4 linked regions of the Homo sapiens genome follow. The protein of the gene in region 2 interacts with the protein of the main gene of each other region in a pairwise test. Each region holds a gene or a part of one and is shown on either strand. Other genes may lie near its edges.

Evidence for each region.
Region 1: the proteins of VMA21 (region 2) and SLC35E4 interact in binary tests that used the Homo sapiens proteins (3 or more experiments, as listed by UniProt).
Region 3: the proteins of VMA21 (region 2) and BNIP1 interact in binary tests that used the Homo sapiens proteins (3 or more experiments, as listed by UniProt).
Region 4: the proteins of VMA21 (region 2) and HMOX2 interact in binary tests that used the Homo sapiens proteins (3 or more experiments, as listed by UniProt).

The regions. Positions count from the first base shown.
Region 1 is NC_000022.11:30,644,921-30,648,393, forward strand, and holds the end of SLC35E4 (solute carrier family 35 member E4), read left to right. Parts: intron 1-1,677; coding exon 1,678-2,111; 3' UTR 2,112-2,973; downstream 2,974-3,473. UniProt on the Homo sapiens protein: Putative transporter.
Region 2 is NC_000023.11:151,393,073-151,400,827, forward strand, and holds the start of VMA21 (vacuolar ATPase assembly integral membrane protein VMA21), read left to right. Parts: upstream 1-4,133; 5' UTR 4,134-4,236; coding exon 4,237-4,289; intron 4,290-7,755. UniProt on the Homo sapiens protein: Required for the assembly of the V0 complex of the vacuolar ATPase (V-ATPase) in the endoplasmic reticulum.
Region 3 is NC_000005.10:173,154,528-173,162,387, forward strand, and holds part of BNIP1 (vesicle transport protein SEC20), read left to right. Parts: intron 1-4,216; coding exon 4,217-4,318; intron 4,319-5,405; coding exon 5,406-5,524; intron 5,525-7,545; coding exon of another isoform or gene 7,546-7,618; intron 7,619-7,784; coding exon of another isoform or gene 7,785-7,797; exon of another isoform or gene 7,798-7,833; intron 7,834-7,860. UniProt on the Homo sapiens protein: As part of a SNARE complex may be involved in endoplasmic reticulum membranes fusion and be required for the maintenance of endoplasmic reticulum organization. Also plays a role in apoptosis.
Region 4 is NC_000016.10:4,507,104-4,511,413, reverse strand, and holds the end of HMOX2 (heme oxygenase 2), read right to left. Parts: intron 3,702-4,310; coding exon 3,210-3,701; intron 2,003-3,209; coding exon 1,876-2,002; intron 1,786-1,875; coding exon 1,658-1,785; 3' UTR 1,067-1,657; downstream 1-1,066.

The sequences.
Region 1 (3,473 bases), on a different chromosome or scaffold from region 2:
AAGTGAAAAGGTTTCCTCTTAGTCCTGGATTCATCTTGACAAGCCACAGTATTAGCAGGAAAAAAAAAAGATGCTGATTATCAGTTATAAACAGTGAGTGAGAGCCAAGATCCCACAATGACCTTTTGTCCCCTTGTCACTCCAGTGGTCATAAGTGAATGAGGCAATGAATGGGTCACACTTTTGACCCAATTTATTATTTTCTTTTATAAACTCTTCTTTTTTAATGCAAAGGCCCCCATGTGGCTAGTAAGTGGCAGAGCTGGGACCCTCTGCTGGCCTGCCCTTTCATGGTGGCTGGAACTGCAGTGTGGGAGTGATAGGGGCTGAGGCGGGAAAGGTGGTTGGGGCCAGTTGATGCAGAGTCTTCGAAGCTGGGTGAAGAACCCTGGGCTGGGTGCACTGGCTCAACGCCTGTAATCCCAGCACTTTGGGAGGCCGAGGTGGGAGGATCACCTGAGGTCAGGAGTTCGAGACCAGCCTGGCCAACATGGCGAAACCCCGTCTCTACTAAAAATACAAAAATTAGCCAGTTGTGGTGGCGCATGCCTGTGATCCCAGCTACTTGGGAGACTGAGGCAGGAGAATCACTTGAACCTGGGAGGCAGAAGTTGCAGCAAGCCGAGATCATTCCACTGCATTCCAGCCTGGGCAACAGAGCAAGACTCTGTCTCCAAAAAAAAAAAAAAAAAAAAAAAGAACCTAGGACCTTCAGGGCCAGGGCAGCCCCTGAAGATTTATTTTTATTTTTTAGAGACAGGGTCTTGCTCTGGTCATTGAGGTGGAGTGTAGTAGCATCATCATAGCTCACTGTAGCCTTCCTCTGGGCTCAAGTGATCCTCCTGCCTCAGCCTCTCAAAGTGCTGGGATTACAGGCATAAGCCACTGTACCTGACCGATTTTTTTTTTTTTTTTTTTAAGACAGGGTCTCGCTCTGTTGCCCAGGCTGGAGTGCAGTGGTGCAATTTTGGCTCACTGCAACCTCCACCTCCTGAGCTCAAGATCCTCCTGCCTCAGCCTCCTGAGTAGCTGGGACTAAAGGCACGTGCCACCACTCCCAGCTAATATTTGTATTGTGTAGAGGCAGGGTTTTATCACGTTGCCCGGGCAGGTCTCAAACTCCTGGGCTCAAGCGATCCGCCCTCCCAAAGTGCTGGGATTACAGGCATGAGCCACCACACCCAGCCTTTGTAATGTTTTTTGAGCCACTTAGTCTTCATGCTTATTGATCATTTAGATATCCCAAGCATATCATTGTTTCAGCTCGTGGGAGGCAGTTTGAAGTGGCTGATAACAGACTTATTTATTTTAGTTTAGTTTTTTATATTTACTGAGCATTTCCCATTTAAGGGCTTTATGTATGCCGTCTTTTAAAATGTTTACAACAACCCGTGATTAGGTTTTATTATTACCCAACTCTCCAGGTGAGGAAACTCAGGCTTACGGAGGTTAAGTGCCTCTCATGAGCCCAGGTCACAGCTACTCAGGGGTGGACACAGGTCACAAACCCAGGTGGTCTGACTCCAACTCTTGACTGTCATGTTTCAGATCAGGAGCCACTAGCCCTGCCCGAGGGGTCCGGGTAGGCTTCTTGGAGGATCGGCCATAGGGGTCATACTGGGGTGGCTGGAGGGGGTTGTGTCCTTCTGGGTGCTCATGGCGGTTGTCCTGTTGCAGGTGCCCTGCTGCAGGAGGAGAGGCTGGACGCGGTGACCCTGCTTTACGCCACCTCGCTGCCCAGCTTCTGCCTGCTGGCGGGTGCAGCCCTGGTGCTGGAGGCTGGCGTTGCCCCACCGCCCACTGCTGGCGACTCTCGCCTCTGGGCCTGCATCCTGCTCAGCTGCCTCCTGTCTGTTCTCTATAACCTGGCCAGCTTCTCCCTGCTGGCCCTCACCTCTGCCCTCACCGTCCACGTCCTGGGCAACCTCACCGTGGTGGGCAACCTCATCCTGTCCCGGCTGTTGTTTGGCAGCCGCCTCAGTGCCCTCAGCTACGTGGGCATCGCACTCACTCTTTCAGGAATGTTCCTTTACCACAACTGCGAGTTCGTGGCCTCCTGGGCTGCCCGTCGGGGGCTGTGGCGGAGGGACCAGCCCAGCAAGGGTCTTTGAGACCTGGGGGATCTCAGGAGCCACCTGGGATGGCCCTGGCCTGAATCCAGCCTCCGCTGTGGCCATAGAAGGAATGGAGAACAGGGCTGGGCATGGTGGCTCACGCCTATAATCCCAGCACTTCCAGAGTCCGAGGTGGGTGGATCACCTGAGGCCAGGAGTTCGAGACCAGCCTGGCTAACATGGCAAAACCTCATCTCTACTAAAAATAGAAAAATTAGCTGGGCATGGTGGCGCGTGCCTATAGTCCCAGCTACATGGGAGGCTAAGGTGGGAGGATCACTTGAGCCCTGGAGATCGAGGCTGCAGTAAGCCAAGATCGCATGCTACTGCACTCCAGCCTGGGAGACAGAGCGAGACGCTGTCTCAATTAAAAAAAAAAAAAAGTGGAGAACTGGCAGTGACCTCTACTGGGGGCCATGGCAGGGAGGGGAGCCTTCTGGAAGGGCTGCCTTGGAGATTGGAATGGGGACTCCCAGGGAGACCTGCGTTCCATCCCTGCCTGCCTCACCCCTGCCACAGACTCTGCACACCACTGGATGGTGGGTCCAAGCCTGGCACAGTCCCTGTGCTTGTCAGAGTCATTATTATGATTAATATCAATTACGATGCCAAAAATTGCTGGGCAAACTTTGAAGACCTCAACTTGTTACAATGACGATGATGATGATTCTTGGCGGTTACACAATCCTTCCTCCTGGGGGGGAGGCAGCTAGGAGGCCCAGCAGGGGGGCTTCTATGCTGCTGGGCTCCCCTAGGGAGTTGGGGTAGTCTGTGCCAACTCCAGGCAGCTGCTGTGGCCTCACCCCTGGGCCCCCCAATTTTGGGTCATCCATCCTCAAATACACTATTTTTGCTTGTATGCCTGTGTCATTTGTTGGTTGTACAGAGGGGATATAGGGAGAGTGGTAGGCTTCCCACACAGAAACTAGGACATCCTCCCTTACCCATCGCAGTCTGTCTGGCCCCCCACCCCGAGCCCAGTGCCATTCCCTCAAATCCCTCCACTGGCTGGGCTACCATTGCCCATCTTCTGGACAGTGGCAGTGGCCTCCCCCTTGCTCTGCCTGGCCCCTCTACTCCATCTTACACACAGACCCCTTCACCCAGAGGGATCTCACTAAAACGTGCACATTCTGATGTTCCTCACTGCTCTTGGGACAAAGTCAGAATTTCCTACCCCAGACCCCAACTCACTCAGGACGTGGCACCTGCAGCCTCACCCAGCTTGTCTCCCTTCCCCTGGGCTCTGCCTTCCAGCCTCACCGACTTCTTTCAGTTCCCCGTGATACCAGGCCTGCTCACTGAAACCTTTGTACATGCTGTTCCCTCCGTCCAGTCCCCGCTTCCTACAACAACCTC
Region 2 (7,755 bases):
AAAACACCGTGCTGTTCAGGTATAGGCCTTGGCAAGTATCAGTTGGTGTTTCAATATGGTTGTTCCATCCAATCCCACAGCCAGCCACCCAAAAGGAAACTTCAAGAAACGAAGTTTTTTCGGGTAAGTAAAGCAATTTGGGGTTGCAAAACGTGTCTTTGGGTGTATACTTTTCACGTCACTGGGTTAATAGTACAGAAGTTTATAACAATATGGTGGAGAAAACGTGTCTTACAAGTAGTACAGAAGTTTACAACAATATGGTGGAGAAAACATGAGACAGAATTAGGAACTATACATTCTCTAATTCTATCACTGACCTAGGGAATTTGGGGCAAATCACTTCCCATCTTTAGCTGTCAGTTTTCTCAACTAAAATTAAAGTGCCAAACTGGGGCTCTTTCAGTTTGAGAATCAGTTTCTGACTTTAAGGGGCATTGGGAAGCCTTCACCAGACTCTGAAATTTTCCCTGGCCTCAGTTTTTCCACTTATGAAGTGGGGATGGTATAAATTGTAGGGACTGTGAATATGCTCAGTAAAATGAAGCACAAGACACATGCTTTAGGGCAGCAGTGGTAGGAAACCACTATTATGGTTTCCTCTGTAGTGGCCACACCCCCTAACACACCATTTCATTCCCATGGCAACGGCTCTGTGTGGGCTCCACTTGCCTCTAATTCTTTTGTAGCACTGCAGGTAGGAGGTTTCAGGGCTCTGTTGAGAGGGCTGACTGCTGGCTAGATTCTTTCCTTCTAGTACAGATTCTGAGTTTATTTTTAAAGTTCTGTGTCTACCTCAGTAAGCTCACAGTAAATGTTGGTAGAGTGTATAAGTCAGCATAAAAAAGAGATATGGCAGGGCGTGGTGGCTCACGCCTGTAATCCCAGCACTTTGGGAGGCCGAGGCGGGCGGATCACGAGGTCAGGAGATCGAGACCATCCTGGCTAACACGGTGAAACCCCCGTCTCTATTAAAAAAAATACAAAAAATTAGCCGGGCGTGGTGGCAGGCGCCTGTAGTCCCAGCTACTCGGGAGGCTGAGGCAGGAGAATGGCGTGAACCCGGGAGGCAGAGCTTGCAGTGAGCGGAGATCGCGCCACTGCATTCCAGCCTGGGCGAAAGAGCGAGACTCTGTCTCGAAATAAATAAATAAATAAATAAATAAATAAATAAATAAATAAATAAGAGATATGAGAGCTTTTGTTTATATTTAAAAACACTACTATGTAAATTACATGAGAAGTTTTTCCCACAGCAAATCTCATTTATGAATGGTTCCTGTTTAAGTTATCACACAAGTGCAACTTAGGCTGTTAATGTGGGAGTGTAAAAGTGCCAGCCTGGGAGTCAGGAGTCAAGCTACATCCCACTAGATAAATGTGTGACTTCCCACAAGTCCCGTCCCCTCTCTGGGCCGCAGTTTTCTCATCTGTACAAGGAAGTGTTTAGACTACTGTTATGGGTTGAATTGCTGGCCCGGTCACCCACACCATCCCCAAATTCATATGCTGAAATCCTAGCCCCCAGTACCCCAGAGTGAAACAGCGTCGCTGCAGATGTAAATAATTAAGTTCATACAGGTGTAGGGTGGGCCCCTAATGCATTATGACTGGTGTCCTTATAAAAAGGGAAAATTTGGACAGAAACACAGACGCAGGGAGAAGGCCGTTTGAAGAAAAATGCAGAGATCAGGGTGATGCTTCTACAAGCCAAGAAATGCCAAAGATTGTCAGCAAACCACCAGAAAACAGAAGAGGGGCCTGGAACAGTCCTTCCTTCACAACCTTCAGAAGGAACCAGCCTCGCCAACATCTCCATCTCAGACTTCTAACCTCCTGAACTGGGAGATGATTAACTTCTGTTGTTGGAGCCACTTAGTTTGTGGCATTTGTTATGGCAGCTCCGGCAAACTACAACAACAGTGGTTCCCAGTTTTTTTGGGGGGGGGTGGACAGAGTCTTACTCTGTCACCCAGGCTGGAGTGCAGTGCAGTGGCACGATCTTGGCTCACTGCAACCTCCGCCTCCTGAGTTCAAGCGATTTTCTGCCTCAGCCTCCTGAGTAGCTGGGATTACAGGCATGTGCCACCACGCCAAGCTGGTTCCCAATTTTTTCACCATCAAGAACTATTTTGCTCTTTTTCCTTTTGTGGACCCAATTTATTTATTTAACAAATATTTATTAGTTCCTACTATATACCAGGCCCTACTCTAGGTATTGGGGAACAATAAGTCACAATTCCGTTCCCCCACTTGTGTTCATTCTATGTTTTAAAAGATTTATTCTATTAAGTATACTGTGGCTTATTTTCATAATAATCTGTGAACAGTCTTTTCTTATGGGATAACTAGGATAACCTCATCATGATATAGTAAGTGTCAAAAATCAAAGAACGGTGATATTTTAAGTAGCTTTGGATGCCTAACAGTAAATAGATTCATTAGGTTTTTAAAAATATTAAAAACTGCCTTCAGAACCACCATTACTACATTTATGGGTCCCTAGGGATTGAAGGACCTCACTGCAGGCTGATTAGCTAGAGCAGGGGTCAGCAAACTCTTCTGTAAAAGGGTCAGATGGTAAGAATTTTGGGCATTGCAGATCATTTTGGGCGTTGCAGATCATACCGTCTCTGTCACAACTACTCAACATTGCTGTTGTAGATAATACAAACAAATGAGAATGGCTGAGCTCCAATAAAATTTTATCAATAGACGCTGAAATTTGAATTTCATATAAATTTCACGTGTCATGTTATTCTTTTGACGTTTTCAACAATTTAAAAAGGAAAAACCATTCTTACCTCAGGGCTGTAGAAAAACAGGTGGTAGGCTCCATGTATTAGGTCGGCTGGCTCAGTTTGCCTACCCCAGAGCTAGATTCTCTTTGTACCCCAAGTTCTTACATTAGGTGGTTCTTACTCACCTAAAGGTCTAGATGAGGCCCAGATAGAGATTACTATTATTTTTATTAAATATTTTACAGTTTGTTTTTTAGAGACGGAGTCTTGCTATGCTGCCCAAGCTGCTCTGGAACTACTGGCCTCACGCAATCCTCCTGCCTCAGCTTCCCAAAGTGTTGAGATTACAGGCGTGAGCCAGCACAGTCAGCCCTAGAGGGGGATTATTCAGTTTGAACTAAAACCTGGACTTCCTGCTGCCCAGTCCATTGCCCTTTCCACCACTCTAAGCTGCTGGTTTAGTCATGATTTCAGATGTGGTCTTTGTATCCATGTGGTGCAGAAAATAGCTGTGTGGTCAGCGGCCCTTTCCAGGCGCTGACCATGTTAAGGGCTGTCCTCTTATTAGCAGCCAGTGGCAACTTAATTTTGTCAAGCCTGACTCCAGACTTACCCACCCTTTCGTTTTTACCTCTCTCGGGTTGCGCAGGCCCGGGAGGCCCATCTGTTCTTACTATTTGAGTCCCTGTTGTCTCATTGGCGGCTTTCTGAGCAGCTGCAAAATATGTTTTTAACTTTTAAGTGGAAGTTGGGGGTCACTGGCATCGAGTCTGGAACAGTCATTCTCAGCAAGAGCTCTTTGAACTCTGACATTCTCTAGTTTTACGGACTCGGGTGAGTGTTTTAACTCCTCCCAGCTGCCAAGGGCTTGACTTCCTACCACTGCGGGCAGTAATTAATGAGGCATTTATTTGCTCAAGTAGTGGCGAAATAATGCGCACTGCTTTTTTGTGTTGTCGTCGGCGGAATACGCTCAGTTGCCTAGCACCACAGCCCTCTGGCTGGTAGTCCCTCTTCGCGGCTCATATGCTCGGGTCTCCTTGCGGCCCCCAGCTCAGCGACCGAGACGCAGACGAGGACCAGTGTTCACGCGAGTTCAGGGGGCGGCGTAGCCGCCGCCCGCCCAGGAGGACCATGTTGCGCGGCAAGTCCCGGCTCAACGTGGAGTGGCTGGGCTACTCGCCAGGCCTGCTCCTCGAGCACAGGCCCCTCCTGGCAGGGCGCACGCCGCGGAGCCACCGCCGGTAAGTCATGTGAGCGCCCGCCCCCGCGCCGGCAACAGCCCTGCGTCGCTGCGGCGCGCCGCGCCGCGCCGCGCCTGCGTACTGTGGCCCGCCGCCCGGCGCGAACGGGCACTTCCGGCGCGAACGGGCACTTCCGGCGCGAACCGCTACTTCCGGTGCGAACCGCCTCGGCCGTTCCCTCGCGGAGCTTACTGAGCGCGGCCGCCGAGCCCAGCTCCGCCGCCGAGCGCCTGTGCCGGCACGGCTACACCATGGAGCGCCCGGATAAGGCGGCGCTGAACGCACTGCAGCCTCCTGAGTTCAGGTAGCCCTGAGCGGGGCCTGGACCGCGAGGCGGACTGGCCCCAGCCTGGAGCAGGGCTTGAGGGAAGGCCCTAGCTGAATGGGTGGGCGTGAGGTCTGGACCCCGGGGACCTGGCCTCAGGGAAGGGGGCGGGGAAAGCAGGTTGGAGCCTGAGACGTCTAAACTCCCGGCCCCGAACTTTCGCTCGGGAACAAGGGATCCGGGGTCATGGGGAATAGGTCAGTGGGCCTTCAGCTCATGCTCCTATCCTAGCACTTTCTCTCGCTGTGTCTATATTGCAGTCTCTTTCATTACCGCAGGGTCAGCCTTCTGAGGACAGGAATGCAGTCTCCTTCATCTCCGTGTTCCCTAGGGGGCCTGCATAGTCGGGGCTTAATAAATGTTTGCTGTATGAATGAAGGAGTAGAAGGGAATAGTCCCCTGGTGTGAGATTGCTTCACTTGGGGAATCAGTAAGATAGAGGCTGGTGACTGAGTTGAAGGAATGTATGAGAGAGCAGGTGGTTCTGGCCCACCCCAGTAGGCAAGGGAGTGGTGAGGGAGTTAGCTATCATTCGTTAAGACCTACTGTATGCCAGGCTCAGTGCACGTGCTTTACATACATTGTCAGAATTCTTAATTTCTCTAACTGCTTGATTTCCCAATTTTGAAGAGGATGCAGTTGAGGGTAAGTGACTTGAAACTGAGGGTGAGTGATTACAGAATTAGGCGACAAAGTTAGTATGTAATTGAAGCTAACGTTTGACCAAGCTCACTGACTCCAAAGCCCACGATCTTTGGAGCTCTGTGATGCCTTCTCTTTCCGACAGGGTCATTGTGAGTTTTTTTTTTTTTTTTTTAACTTTTATTTTAGGTTCATGAGTACATGCGCAGGTTTGTTATATAGGTAAACTGCATGTCACGGGGGCTTGGCGTACAGGTAATTTTGTCACCCAGGTAATAAGCATAGTACCCGATAGGCGTTTTTTCTGATTCTCTCCCTCCTCCCAGCCTCCACCCTCAAGTAGACCGCACTGTCTGTTGTTCCTCTCCTAGTGTCCATCTGTTCTTGTTGTTTAGTTCCCACTTATGAGAACGTGCAGTATTTGGTTTTCTTTTCCTGTCTTAATTTGCTTAGAATAATGGCTTCCAGCTCCAGTCATGTTGCTGCAAAGGACATGATCTCATTCTTTTTTATGGCTGCATAGTGTTCCATGGTGTATATGTACCGCATTTTCTTTATCCAGCCTCAATGTGGGTTTTTTTTTAATTATTCATTTATGAGAATACCAACATATTTTTATTAGATACACTTACAGCATAGTCCTTCTAGACTGATTCTGGTTTCCTAATGGAATTTGCAGTGAAATCTTGACTGTGGGAGAAAGAATTCCTGTTGTCTTACTTGCTACAAAAGGGAATGTGGTAGGCTCTGTCTGCTCAATGTTGGCTGCAGAAGTTTGTATGAAGTGGGAAAACTAGGTGGTGTTATAAATGGAGGCAGATTAAGGTTCATCCTGAACTTTTTCCTTTGTGTGAGGACAACTTTAATTCCAGCCTTTCTCATTCCTCACTTCTAACAAATCTCTGCTCAGTAACACCCAAAGATACATAGGATAAATCAATTGAATAGCATCAGTTGCTTTGTCTTGGATAAGCCACTGATTTTACCCAAGGTGGCTTGCATCAGCAAAACCAACAGCTCTTGTGGCTGGAATCCAGGGAGAAAATGTCCTATAAACAGTAGAGGAAGTTTGCTAGTTTTCAAAAGTTTGTATGTACACTTTGACTTAATGCTTAGTCCCATATTAGTGAGGTCACAACACAGAAAAGTAGTCACATTTTTGAAGTTTGAGGTAAAGAGAGAAGTGAGAAGGAATTAGCCATAAATTATTAAGGTATGCTGTGTATAGATTGTGTGGGGGCTAGAAATTAATATGTAGAAAGGTTATATTTGGGTGGTGGGATTATAGGTGATTTTGTTTACTTTAAAACATTTTTATGGTGTTATATCATCTTTTCAATAATAAACTTTTTAAAAGCCAGACCAGATAATAGATACTCAAGAGAGGTCATGTAAAGAACAAAACAATCAGTTAACACTTCCTTTCTGTTCCTTTAACAAGTTAGATAATCTGAAAGTTGCATTCCTAAAACATACTTTTTTACTCACCATAGAAACACCAAAGTCAAGTGCTTTTTTTAGGGTGCACAAAAGAATTGGCCAATTAGTGACTCTTTGTATTTTTTGTAGATTCTCCACTGCAGACACTCATACTCTTCATGAGGATTACACAATAAATTTCTCTAAAAATTTACTAGTAGGAAACAGTTTAAGGGAGCTTATGTATATTAAATGAGAGTTGTATAGCTCAGTAATAACCAAAATGAGGCCTGCTAAAAGATGATCCATTTAAGTACCAAAAGAAAATATTAGAACTTTTTTTTTTACAGCAGTAAGCATTTAATTTCTCACACATGTGCAGAGCATGTGATCAAGAAATAGGCATGAGGTTAGTTATATTTAATATATATTTTACTCAATGTTTTTGTGGGTTTTTTGTTCAGGTTCTTTTTAAATAAATTTCATTGTGTATATTTGAGGTTCATAACATGATGTTATGGCATACATATAGTAAAATGATTACTATGGTGAAGCAGATTAATATATCTGTCATCTCACATACTTTTGTGTGTGTGTGACCAGAGGCAGCTAAAATCTTATTTACAAAAGTCCCTAATACCATGCAACTTTATTGCCTATAGTCCTCTTGTACATTAGATATCTCACTTGTTAATCCATATATCTACTGCTTTGTGTCCTTTGATGTATATCTTCCTATTTCCTCCCCTCCAGCCTCCCACCCCCACCGCCATGGTAACTACTGTTTTATTCTCTGTCCCTGTGTAGTTGACCGTTGACCTTTTTTTTTTTTTTTTAAAGATTCCACATATAAGTGAGCTCATGTAGTATTCGTCTTTCTGCGTTTGGCTTATTTTACTTAACATGTCTTCCAGGTCCATCCATGTTGTGGCAAATGGCAGATGTCCTCTTTTAAGGCTGAATAAAATATTCCCTTGTATATATACACTACGGTTTCTTTATTTTGTCTGTCTACATACACGTAGGTTGTTTTCAAATCTTGGCTATTGTGAATAATGCTGCAATGAACATGGAAGTGCAGATATTTTTACGAGGTAGTGATTTCATCTCCTTTGCTTATATTCCAGAAGAGAGATTGCTGGGCTGTGTGGTAGTTCTATTTTTAATTTCTTTAGGAACTGTTTTCCATAATGGCTGTACCAGTCTACATTTCCAGTCACAATGTAGTAGGGTTTCTTTTTCTCCACACTTTTACAAACATTTGTTATCACTTGCCTTTTTGATAATAGCTGTCCTTAGAAGTGTGAGGTTATATCTCATAGTGGTTTTGATTTGCATTTCCCTGATGATTTAGTGATGTTGAGCACATTTTCATTTATCTCTT
Region 3 (7,860 bases), on a different chromosome or scaffold from region 2:
TTTTTTTTTTTGAGAGACGGTGTCTCGCTCTATTGCCCAGGCTGGAGTGCAGTGGCCTGATCTTGGCTCACTGTGACCTCTGCCTCCCGAGTTCAAGCAATTCTTCTGCCTCAGCCTCCTGAGTAGCTGGGATTACAGGCGCCCACCATCACGCCTGGCTAATTTTTGTATTTTTACTAGAGACAGAGTTTCGCTGTGTTGGCCAGGCTGGTCTCTAACACTGGCCTCATGTGATTCACCCACCTTGGCTTCCCAAAGTGCTGGGATTACAGGTGTGAGCAACCACGCCCAGCCAATTGCATCAGTTACACACTGGTGGAATGTTCTCTCTCAGTCAGCAATAGTCAAGTGGGGGCGAGTGGGGAAGGGATAAATAGGGCCTATCTGAGCAGGTGGAGCTGAACATAGTTTACAAAAGCATATTTAACATTATACTGTATTGTATATTTTTAATCAAAAAATATGATTGCTTTTGTAATACAGGGTCATTTTTTATCTAAGGATAATTGGTACCAGAAAAAATCTACAGAAAGAAAACCTGCTGAAGGTGGACCAAAATTTAGAAGGTTTTGAGTGGGATGCTGTCTAAAAATAAAATAAAATAAAATGCAAGAAAAACCGTAAATTAAACAAAATTGAGGTCAAAAATTAAAACCAAAATCGAGGTTGTAATTGCAGGTGTGTGCTAATCCTTGATTATATAGTTACAGTTATATGCCATTTCTTGTTATTGAATTGGGAGAGGTTTAACTTTTCCAATGAAATTGTCAGACAACATGAAACAGTATCTTTCCCTTCACATTTGACTTTTGTACCAATCATAAAGAGGGTTTTTCCAAACATATTTGAGGTATTCAGATCATTCTCTCTCTTTTTTAAAAATACATTTTTGGCCCAGTGCGGCGGCTCACGCCTGGAATCCCAGCGCTTTGGGAGGCCGAGGTGGGCAGATCATGAGGTCAGGAGTTCGAGACCAGCTTGACCAACATGGTGAAACCCCTCTCTACTAAAAATACAAAAATTAGCCGGGTGTGGTGGCACACACCTGTAATCCCAGCTACTCGGGAGGCTGAGGCAGGAGAATCGCTTGAGCCCGGGAGGCAGAGGTTGCAGTGAGCCGAGATTGCTGCACTCCAGCCTGGGTGACAGAGTGAGACTCCACCTTAAAAACAAAAAAAAAATATTTTTATTTTTAAAAAATTAAAAAATTTTGGAAATGAGGTCCTTCTCTGTTGCCCAGTCTGGAGTACAGTCATAGCTTACTGCAGCCTCAGGAACTCCTGGGCTCAAGCGATCCTCTCACCTCAGCTTCCCAAGTAGTTGGGACTACAGCACACTCCACCGTGCCTGGCTAAATCATTCTCTTTTGAAACCCCTGCTAAGTTGTCATTCCCATGGGTTTTCTCTTTGTCTCTTGTTCACTGGTCTGCCTCTGCCAGATCTGTATTTGTGGCTTTGCTTCTGATTTGAGCAATTTGCCAGCATCATCTTCCCTGCAAGCAGCTGTGTATGTAACAGTCAGCTGTCAGGAAGACACCGACTGGCAAAAACACAGGCACAGGGAGGCCAGTGTAAGCAGGGAGGGCTGTATGAGTGGTGGGCAGTGATCCAGGGCTTGGCTATTTCACGAATACTTTATGTTATGATGGCTTTTGCTTTCCTGAGCCACCAAGCCTACTCAGATTATAAACACTGAGTACAGAGGAGCCCTTGTATAAAGTATGGTAAGTTATGCCAGACACACTCAGCTTAGCATGGGTTTAAAGCTGGGAATGGCCATCCACAATGTAGCATTACAGGCCAGAGCAGAGAAAGCTGTCAATTTATACTTTGGGGCTATGTGCAGTAGCTCACACCTATAATCCCAGCACTTCGGGGGCCGAGGCAGGAGGACTGCTTGAGCCCAGGAGTTTAAGACCATCCTGGGCAACAAAGCAAAACCTCATCTATTAAAAAAAAAAAAAATTAGCTGGGGGCATGCTGATGTGTGCCTGTAGTCTCAACTACTTGGGAGGCCAAGGCAGGAGGGCAGTGGGCTCGGGAGGTCAAGGCTGCAGTGAGCCGTGATCATGTGACTGCACCTGGCCTAGGAGACAGAACGAGACCCTGCCTCTTTTCTTTTGTTTTTTTTTTTTTTTGAGACAGAGTCTCACTCTGTCACCCAGGCTGGAGTGCAGTGGCGCAATCTCGGCTCACTGCAAGCTCCACCTCCCGGGTTCACGCCATTCTCCTGCCTCAGCCTCTCCGAGTAGCTGGGACTACAGGCACCCGCCACCACGCCTGGCTCATTTTTTATATTTTTAGTAGAGATGGGGTTTCTCCGTGTTAGCCAGGACGGTCTCGATCACCTGACCCTCATGATCCGCCGGTCTCAGCCTCCCAAAGTGCTGGGATTACAGGCGTGAGGCACCGTGCCCAGCCGACCCTGTCTCAAAAAAAAAACAAAAAAAACAAAAAAAACCAACTTTGGCAGTTGAAGCAGTAGTTGTGCTTGCTTGGGTCATCATGCTTGTCACACCATACAGTGAGTATCTGTTTGCTTGTCTTTTTCCCAAATGAATGTGAGGTGGTTGAGGAGAAGTACTGCCCCTCATTCATCTCTGGATCCCAGGGTCCTGCAGAACCCCCTTGCAAACTGTTTCAAAATGTAATGGATTCTTTAAAGTGGCAGGTGTGAAATGGCGGAGCAGGTGCTCATTAAGACCTTCAGCATAAAGGTGCTATTAGAAAACCACCCTGTCAGTTCATGTACTCTGTGTTTTGATTTTTGAGTATTTCCAGAGATTAGCACAATTGGTTTGAGCTGGCTACATAAGAGTTCTGAAGTATGAGTTTGATTCTTAGAGAGACGCAGTTAGCTTTTTTATAGTCTATCAACAACTGTCAACATTTCTTTTTTTTTTTGAGACGGAGTCTTACTCTCATTGCCCAGGCTGGAGTGCAGTGGCGTGATCTTGGCTCACTGCAACCTCTGCCTCCTAGATTCAAGTGATTTTCCTGCCTCAGACTCCCGAGTAGCTGGGATTACAGGCACTCGCCATCATGTCCAGCTAATTTTTGTATTTTTAGTAGAGACAGGGTTTTAACATGTTGGCCAGGCTGGTCTCGAACTCCTGACCTCAAGTGACCCACCCGCCTCGGCCTCTCAAAGTGTTGGGATTACAGATGTGAGCCACCACGCCCGGTCAACTGTCACATTTCTAACTCCAGGAAGCTGTTCACCAACTTTCCGTTATCACCCACAAGTTAGCGCAGGTGAAGACTGTAGATCCGCCGTGTCAGTCAGGGCTCTGCTAATCCATCATGTTTGTGTCATTCATGATTGGTCTGTAGTATGGAAAGAACAACAAACCTTGAAGAAATATTTTGAAAGATTGGCTTTTTGTGTGTGTGTGTGTGTTTTTTTTTTTTTTTCTTGAGAGAAGGTCTTACTCTGTCACCCAGGCTGGAGTATAGTGGTACTATCACGGCTCACTGCAACCTCCACTTCCCAGGCTCAGGTGATCTTCGCTCCTCCGCCTCCTGGGTAGCTGGAACCACAGGCATGCGCCACCACCATGCCTGGCTAATTTTTTGTATTTTTAGTAGAGACGGGGTTTCTCCATGTTGCCCAGGCTGGTCTTGAACTCCTGGGCTCAAGTGATCCCCCCACCTCGGCCTCCTAAAGTGCTATGATTACAGGTGTGAACCACTGTGCCTGGCCACGATTTTTTATTTCCTACAAAGTATATTAACTCAGCAGCTGAAGGGCCAGAAATGGTTGTTCAAGATACTGGAGATGAGTAAGTCATGGTTCTCCGGGGATGGTACCAATTAATACACAGGCCATAGCAGTACAGCCTTAGAGGCAACTGGACTGAAGAGGGGCCTTGTGTGACCAGCTGGGAAGTTTGGATGCCTCCCTGAAGTCCAGCCATTGTGGAGCTGTGCACAGAGGAGTGCCATGTTCACAGCCCCTTGGGCTGACGGGGGCAGAGTGACAGCAACAGAGCCTCCCCGTGGCGACCTCCAGGGTCCGGTCAAGGGGTATCAGGACCTGAGCAAGAACAGTTGCTGGGGAACCAGGAGGCGGAAGTGGCAGGAGGTGGGATGGGCTCTGAAGGCCGTGCCTGGTGGCCTTCTCCCGTGTGCCTTTGTTGGGGGGAAGTGCTGTGAATTGAACTGACTTATGGCTTGGTGGAGTGGACACACTCACACGTGAACCTTCCAATTCCAGCAATCAGGCCTCATGGAGGAAAGCTAATCTCACCTGCAAAATTGCAATCGACAATCTAGAGAAAGCAGAACTTCTTCAGGGAGGAGATCTCTTAAGGCAAAGGTACCTATTCTTTTATTTTTCTGGGCTCCGATAATAATAGATAACAATTGGCAAGGTGTAGGAAACCCCCTCTTGTTTTCAGCTTGGTGCTTAATTTAATTACATAAGTAATTTTTTTAAGTTTGAAAAAAATGCATACTTATTTGTAGTAAATTGGTAAAATAAAGTATGAATTACAAAATTAAAATATTGAATTTTTTTTTTTTTCTGAGATGAAGTCTCACTCTTGTAGCCCAGGCTGGAGTGCAGTGGTGCCCTCTTGGCTCACCGCAACCTCCGCCTCCTGGGTTCAAGTGATTCTCCTGCCTCAGCCTCCAAAGTATCTGGGATTACAGTTGCGTGCCACTGCACCCAGCTAATTTTTTGTATTTTTAGTAGAGACGGGGTTTAACCACGTTGGCCAGGCTGGTCTTGAACTCCTGACTTCTGGTGATCCACCCACCCCAGCCTCCCAAAGTGCTAGGATTATAGGCGTGAGCCACCATGCCCGGCCGAAAATATCAAATCTTATTACTCATGAACATTTTGGTATATTCTCTCCCTCATTTTTATTTCTACATTTCTTACAAAGTCAAAATTGTACCATACATAAAATTTCATATTCTGCTGTTTCAGCACAAAAGTTGTTCATTAAAAAAAAAAAAAAAGCTTTTTAAGCCTAATTCTAACAGTACATAGTATGTAGATTGTATGTTAATACAATTCCCTGTGTGTGTTTGCATTTCTAGTGTTTAAGTAGTGTAAGTAATACACCAGGGCATGTCTTAGAACATAAGGCTTTATCCACATTTTGGATGTTTCCTTTGGAGGGATTTCCAGGGATGAGATGATTGAGTCAAAGGAATGAACATTACCAAGGCTCTTCAATTGGCAAATTGCTTTACAGAAGGCAGCACTGGTTTATGTTCCTACTAGCAGTCCACAGGGGCGTGGGTCTCAGCACACCCTTTCCAGCATTGAATGTGATCATTTAAAATATGTATACTAATTGGATAGGTAAAACATGAGATCTCATTTGGATGTGGGGCCTTCTTGCAGGGAGGCTTTTGTTGACATTCCTCCCCTTTCTCTTCCTCTGAACTTTTAGGAAAACCACCAAAGAGAGCCTGGCCCAGACATCCAGTACCATCACTGAGAGCCTCATGGGGATCAGCAGGATGATGGCCCAGCAGGTCCAGCAGAGCGAGGAGGCCATGCAGTCTCTAGGTAAAGCTGGGCCTGGAGTAGGAAGCTTCTCCCAGAGACGCTGCTCTAGGGCCCTTGCCCTGGCACCTCCACTCTGGGCTCCTCCACCACAGCCCACACGATGTTCACTGACTTGGGTGGCTTCTCCCTCATGAGATGACTTGACACCATGGTCTTATCCAGTGTGGGATGTGCTGCTCCTATTTCTCTTTTTTTTTTTTGAGATGGAGTTTCGCTCTTGTTGCCCAGGTTGGAGTGCAATGGTGCGATCTCAGCTCACCGCAACCTCTGCCTCCTGGTTTCAAGCGATTCTCCTGCCTTAGCCTCCCAAGTAGCTGGGATTACCGGCCTGCACCACCACACCCGGCTAATTTTGTATTTTTAGTAGAGACGGGGTTTCTCCATGTTGGTCAGGCTGGTCTTGAACTCCCAACCTCAGGTGATCCGCCTGCCTCAGCCTCCCAAAGTGCTGGGATTATAGGCGTGAGATGCCACGCCCGGCCCGTATTTCTGTTTACTAGAAGACCCCACACCCCCATCGATGTTTCCTCAGGGGGAGCATTCCCATGTGTTCATGTGAAAGGCAGAGGTCCCAGCCCCTCTCCTAGAGAGGGTGTCGGCAGGGCTGGGTGAGGGGCCTGGAGTCTGATTTTCAGTGAGGGCTCTGGGGACCCATATGGCCAGGCAAGTTTGGGAATGGTTGCTCCAAGAGATGTTTGGCGAATCAGCTGCTGGTAGGACTGCTAGGACCTCAGTTTACAATTATACTCCCCAACGTTATTTTTCCTATGAGTTCCTTTTAAAAGATGTGAATCAGAGGCTACAGGAGAGACTGCTTGAGACCATCTGGTTTCCTCCAATAGTTTTCCCAGAGTGTCTCCTCTGTGATGGAGAAGAGTATCAGCCCTCTCCAGGGTCCTTCAGTATAAGACAACAGAAAAAGGGCGTTTACTCCTTGAAACGCTTTTGGAAAATTGCACACGTGGACAAAAGGAGAAAGCATGGTATCCTGAATCCCCTGAGCCCTGAGTCCATTACCCCAGCCAGTCTCGTTTCAGTTCTACCCTCAGCCCATCCCCCATCTGGATTATTTTGAAGCAAATCCCAGACATCATCCATAAATATCTCAGTACATCTCTCTAAAAGATAAGGGACTCTTTGGGGAAAAAGCAGAAGCAACCCCATAACTACAATACCATGATCACCCCTAGAAATTATAATTTTGGACCACTGTTTTTTCAGTGCACCAAATAGGCAGAAGCAAAAGGAAAGCAAGCAGGTGACCCCAAGGTCACTCCTTGAGTTTGCAGCTTACCTGAACATCTGGGCTCGGAACCAGCCAGGGGCTTCCTCTCAGCGTGTGCTGTGGGAGAGGCCTTGGAGAGAGAGGGAGCAAGGCGACAACTTGGCCTCTGAGCCCAGGGCTTTTATGCTCTGGTGTGGCGACAGCATACCCCCCGCTAACAGTGGGAAGGAAACACAAATGCTGGTGGCTTCTGGGGTGTTGAGAGGGTCCCGGTGTTCTTGGGGCCCATTTTGTACAAGCGATAACTATTGAAGAAAAGAGAAGAATACAGTTCTTAACCCTTTCCTTATGCCTCACAAATTCAGCTTGATTTAAAAGCCTACTAGGACCATAATTTTAAAACAAAAAGCTTATTAGGAATATGGTGTCTGGAATTTGCTCCACAATTGCAGGAGTAGTTGCAGTTGGGGGGAGGGGGAGCAGGATTTCAGAGGTTGGTGGTTCTTGGTTATGGGTGGTGGACACATGGCATTTCATGATATTATGCTGTCTGCTCTGTGATGGTTCAAAATTCTCCGTAATAATAAAGTTTAAAAAGAAAGGCCTATTAGATTTTTACTTAGCAAGATCTCAGGGTTTTGAAATCGCAGCAGGCAGGCGTGGAGAAAGCAGGCGGAGAGGGATTCCTGTTCTGTGAGTGTTTGTTTTTCTCCTTTTATCTGTCATTTTCAAAACGCTGCTGTGTTTCCTCTGATAATTTATCCTATTTACTTATTAGCTTTTAATTTTTAAAAAGGTAACACATACAGCATAGAGAAGGATAAGAAAACTCTAGCCCAGGACTGCCATAGAAACGCAACAGCAGCCACGTATGTAACTTTAAATTTTCCAGTAGGCACATGTTAAAAAGTAAAAAGAAACATAAGAAATTAATTTTAGTAAGATGTTTATTTAACCCATTATGTAAAATATTATAATTTCAATGTAAAACTAATATTAAAAACTATTGAGATATTTTACATTCCTTTTTCTTAGATTAAGTCTTTGAAACATCGTGTGGATTTTGGCCAGGCGCGGTGGCTCATGCCGGTAATCCCAGCACTTTGGGAGG
Region 4 (4,310 bases), on a different chromosome or scaffold from region 2:
CACTGCCACTGCATGGCCTCCTGTCACTGTGAATCGTGGCCCAGTCTCAGTTTGTAGTTTCTCATTAAATTGGCCCTTTCACTCCCCCGCCCTGGGCCTCTGCTCTCTTGCCTGGCTTCCTTCTTTTTTGAGGGAAAGAGGGTGGGGCTGCAGGCAGTCTACTGGCAGGACGGGAGGCTGAGTCCTCAGGGTCTCACACCCTCAGTGCTGATGCCATGCCAACTGCCTGGGACAACACCAACACGTAAGGACCTAATTAAACCAAACCAGAGTCGGGTGTAGACCAGCCCTGGGATTTCCAGCTGTGACTGGGCCAGGGCACACGTTGGTCTCGGCAGTGGCTGTAAGGTCACCTTCCTTCCTCTGATGCTGGTTTCAACCATCTATATATGGCATCCACGCATGGGATCTGCAAGCTGGAGCCCTCCTACCCGCAGGCTTGAGCACAGCATCATCCAGCCCTGGGGAGGCGCACCCTTAAGCAACACAGACTGGGCTGAGGCTGACAGGCAGAAGACTAACAGAGCGCAGTCTGCACACGCAGGTTCTGGGCGACCTCTGGCCCTGGCCATCTCTGCACTAACTCATCTGAATTATGAAGGTGGCAGTCTTGGTCAGTAGTTTAAAGAGTTTCCCTACTTTTTAACCCTTTTTGAAATAAAACTTTTACAGGTAGTAGATTCCTATTAATAAAATTATTTAAGTTCATGTTTCTCTTTTAGAGAATGAATTGTTTAAATACAAATATGTGCTTTTTTAAAACCCTTATTTTTAAATATATATATATATTTTAAAAAAACCTTTTAAGTAGGAAACCTCTAAGGTATTTCTGAGCTAAAAAATAGCAGTGCTGGATACACTTTAAAGATCTTTGCAAGACGGTTAGAGTGACTTTGCTTTGGAGACTAGAGGTGCTGGAGAGTAGACCCAGAGCAGGAGGTGGCTGCTGGGAGCCATGATGGACGATGTCCACTCCCCACACAGACATAACATGCCCTTGCTTCTGAGGGACTCTCCTATGGGGAGGTGGCTTGACCCACCCGGTGCCAGGAGGCAGGGAAGGAGGTAGCTTGCAAAGCCCACTTTATTGAGTGCTGGAGCATTTACACAGCGCGGAGGAGGAGATAAGCTGGGGCTGAGCAAACCGCACCCAAGGGGTTAGAGGGATTCTGGGTGAGAGGGATGAGCTCCCAAGGCCTCTGAGGCTTCCACCCACACCCACCCTCACTCCCAGGGTCCAAGAGAGGCCCAGAAGTTGTACAGCAGCATCCAGCAAGGCCCCCTCGCACAGCTTGGACTTACAGGCCACTCACCTCCAACAGGGGAGATAGTCACCCATGTACTGCAAAAACAGGGACTACCGGAAGCAGCCTAGGGCCCAGAAGTGTGGAAGCCTGGAGTAGAGCTGGGTCGGGGGCCAGGCTTGCTGCACTGTGCCGACTGCTCCCAGGGTGACGGCCTGTGCCCAGTGCGGAATATGGCCCATAGAGAGGATGCTGTCAGGCAGAGGCTCTAGCATCTGGCTTTTATTGGTTGCCTTTCTTAAACCCAGCATTTTTTAAAAAGTCACCTGAGGTGGTAGTTTAGTCAGGGCTGGAGAAAGGGGTAGGCCAGTGGTCAGTCGGGAGGAGGGTACCGGTGTGGCATGATGGGTGCTTCACATGTAGTACCAGGCCAAGAGTCCAGCAGCTAGGGCCACACCAGCGGCCAGGATGAACTGGAGGCTGGGCTTCCTCAGCACAGCCATAGCTGTTCGGAAGGGACAGCTGCTGCCCTCCAGGGCACCTGTGTGGCAGCACCAATAGGAGACATGGCATCAGTGGAGTCTCCTGCTACACCTGCCCCAGGAGGGGAGCTCAGGACACACAGACCTACCTTTGTCTTGTTCAGCAGCGTAGAAAGGGCATTTACGCATGTCTCCTTTCCCATCGTGTACAGGGAACCCATCCTCCAAGGTCTCTCTGGCCAGTGTGGAGCCGGCCTGGTCCAGTTCATTGAATATCTGCAGGAGCAGAGGATCGACTGAGCCATCTTTGGGCTGCCCATACTTTTTTTTTTTTTTTAAATGTCTTTTGAGATGAGGTCTCTGTTGCCCAGGCTAGAGTGCAGTGTTATGAACATGGCTAACTCACTGCAGCCTCAAACTCCTAGGCTCAAGTGGTCCTCCCACCTTATCCTCCTACGTGTGTGTACCACCATACCTGGCTAATTTTTAAATTTTGTGGGGAGATGGTGTCTCACCTTGGTTGCCCAGGCTGGTCTTCAACTCCTGGGGTCAAGTAATGCCCCTGCCTCAGCCTCCCAAAGTGCTGGGATTACAGGCATGAGCTACTGCGCCTGGCTACACTCTCCTTTTAGAGGACGCCCTCCAGAGAGAGTGAGCTGGAGCAGGTGAGCTTGCTCAGGTGTGCCAACTACACAGCAAGCAGCACTGGTGGGCGGCAGCTGCACTGCCTGATGGTCTTCCCTCCCTAGCAAGAGCTCTGGGGAGGTGTGGATATTGGTACCCCAAGAAGGCTGCCAAATGCTGGGTCTCCCCTGGGAACTGACCAGAGATGTAGCCTTCTCTGAGGTGGCTCAAGCCACTGAAACTACCACAGCACAGACAGGAGGGCATGAGTACATCCCCATTTCTAGGTGCTGGTTATTTTTTTATCAAGAAGCAACAGAAAACCTGGAACATGGGAGAATGAGACTGTGGCAGGGCATACTCATCCTGAGTGCCCTGGGAGGCCTCAGTGGAAGCTGACAGGACCTGGGGACAGAGTAAGCTTCCCCAGGTTCAGCCTCATCTAAAGGCTACTTGTAAACAGAGCTTATTTACTCTCCTTGGTGGCACTGGCTCTCTATTAACTTATAAAGCAGGGCTTCTCAGAGCAAAACTTGAAAAGAAAATTAACCATTCTTCAAGACCAGCATCCTGCAATGAGGGAGGAAGCCAGCTCCATTCTTCCAGACCCCTCTATGTGCGAGAGGACTCACCCTTCCCAAAACACTACCCACTGGCATCTATCACACCAGGCCTCCATGCTGGGAACCACCCACTGGGCCCACAAGCTCTGGTGGCCAATCTGGTGGCCACCTTCCTCTCGGCACCCTGCAGCTCATCTGTCCTAATGCCATGTGTGCCTTCATGGGCCACTATGGATCTGCTACCACTGTCAAAGTTTCCCTCTTCAGCCCTAGCAGCTGGCAGCCCCCAATAGTACCTGCATGTTATACTCAAAAGCCTTGTTGGCCTCCTCCACGATCCTCTCTTTGGTCTTCATGTTCAGGTCCAGGGCGTTCATCCTGGCCCGGTAGAGCTGCTTGAACTGCTGGGCATTGTCCACATTCTCAAACAGGTAGAACTGGGTCCCTTCCCCTGTGCTGGGGAGTTTCAGTGCTCGCTGGGCCACCTTCTTCAGCACCTGGCCCCCCGAGAGATCCCCCATGTAGCGGGTGTATGCATGGGCCACCAGTAGCTCCGGCTCGTTCTGCCCTATGTAGTGGATCCGCTCCACGTACTTCTGGGCAGCCTTGGGGCACTGCACCTGCTCCTCCCAGTTTTCACCAAAGAAATACTCCATGTCCTTGGTCAGCGCCTCCTTCCGGTGCAGCTCCATGGGGAAGTACAAAGGGGCAAAGGCTGGATGGTCCTTGTTGCGCTCCATTTCCTCCTCGAGGGCTGAGTATGTGAAGTAAAGTGCCGTGGTGGCCAGCTGTGGAGGTGACAGGAGGAGGCCAGCTATGCCTGAGCACACCACATCCGAGCAGCTGGATGCAGAGGCTCAAGTGACAACCCCCAACCCCAAAGACCCAATCCTATGGTCCATTTTTATGTAGTGAATTATTTAACACACAAGGAAGCTTTTGTTTCTTAAAGGAATGGCATGGTGAAGTCTTTGGAACACGCATACTTTTGCTTCCTTCACACCACTATGTTATTCTATCTAAGCCATGAGAACCAATTTTTTTTTTTTTTGGCGGGGTAAAGAGTCTCGCTCTGTCACCCAGGCTGGAGTACAGTGGGACGATCTCGGCTCACTGTAACCTCCGCCTCCCAGGTTCAAGTGACTCTCCCACCTCAGCCTCCCAAGTAGCTGGGAGTACAGGCACGCGCCACCACACCCGGCTAATTTTTGTATTCTTAGTAGAGACAGGGTTTCACCATGTTGGCCAGGCTGGTCTCAAACTCCTGGCCTCAAGTGATCCACCTGCCTCGGCCTCCCAAAGTGCTGGGATTACAGACATGAGCCACTGTACCCAGCCGAGAGCCAGAGCTTAACGTCAAGAAGGAATGGAGTGTGGAGAAAAGCCCAGCTTTTCCC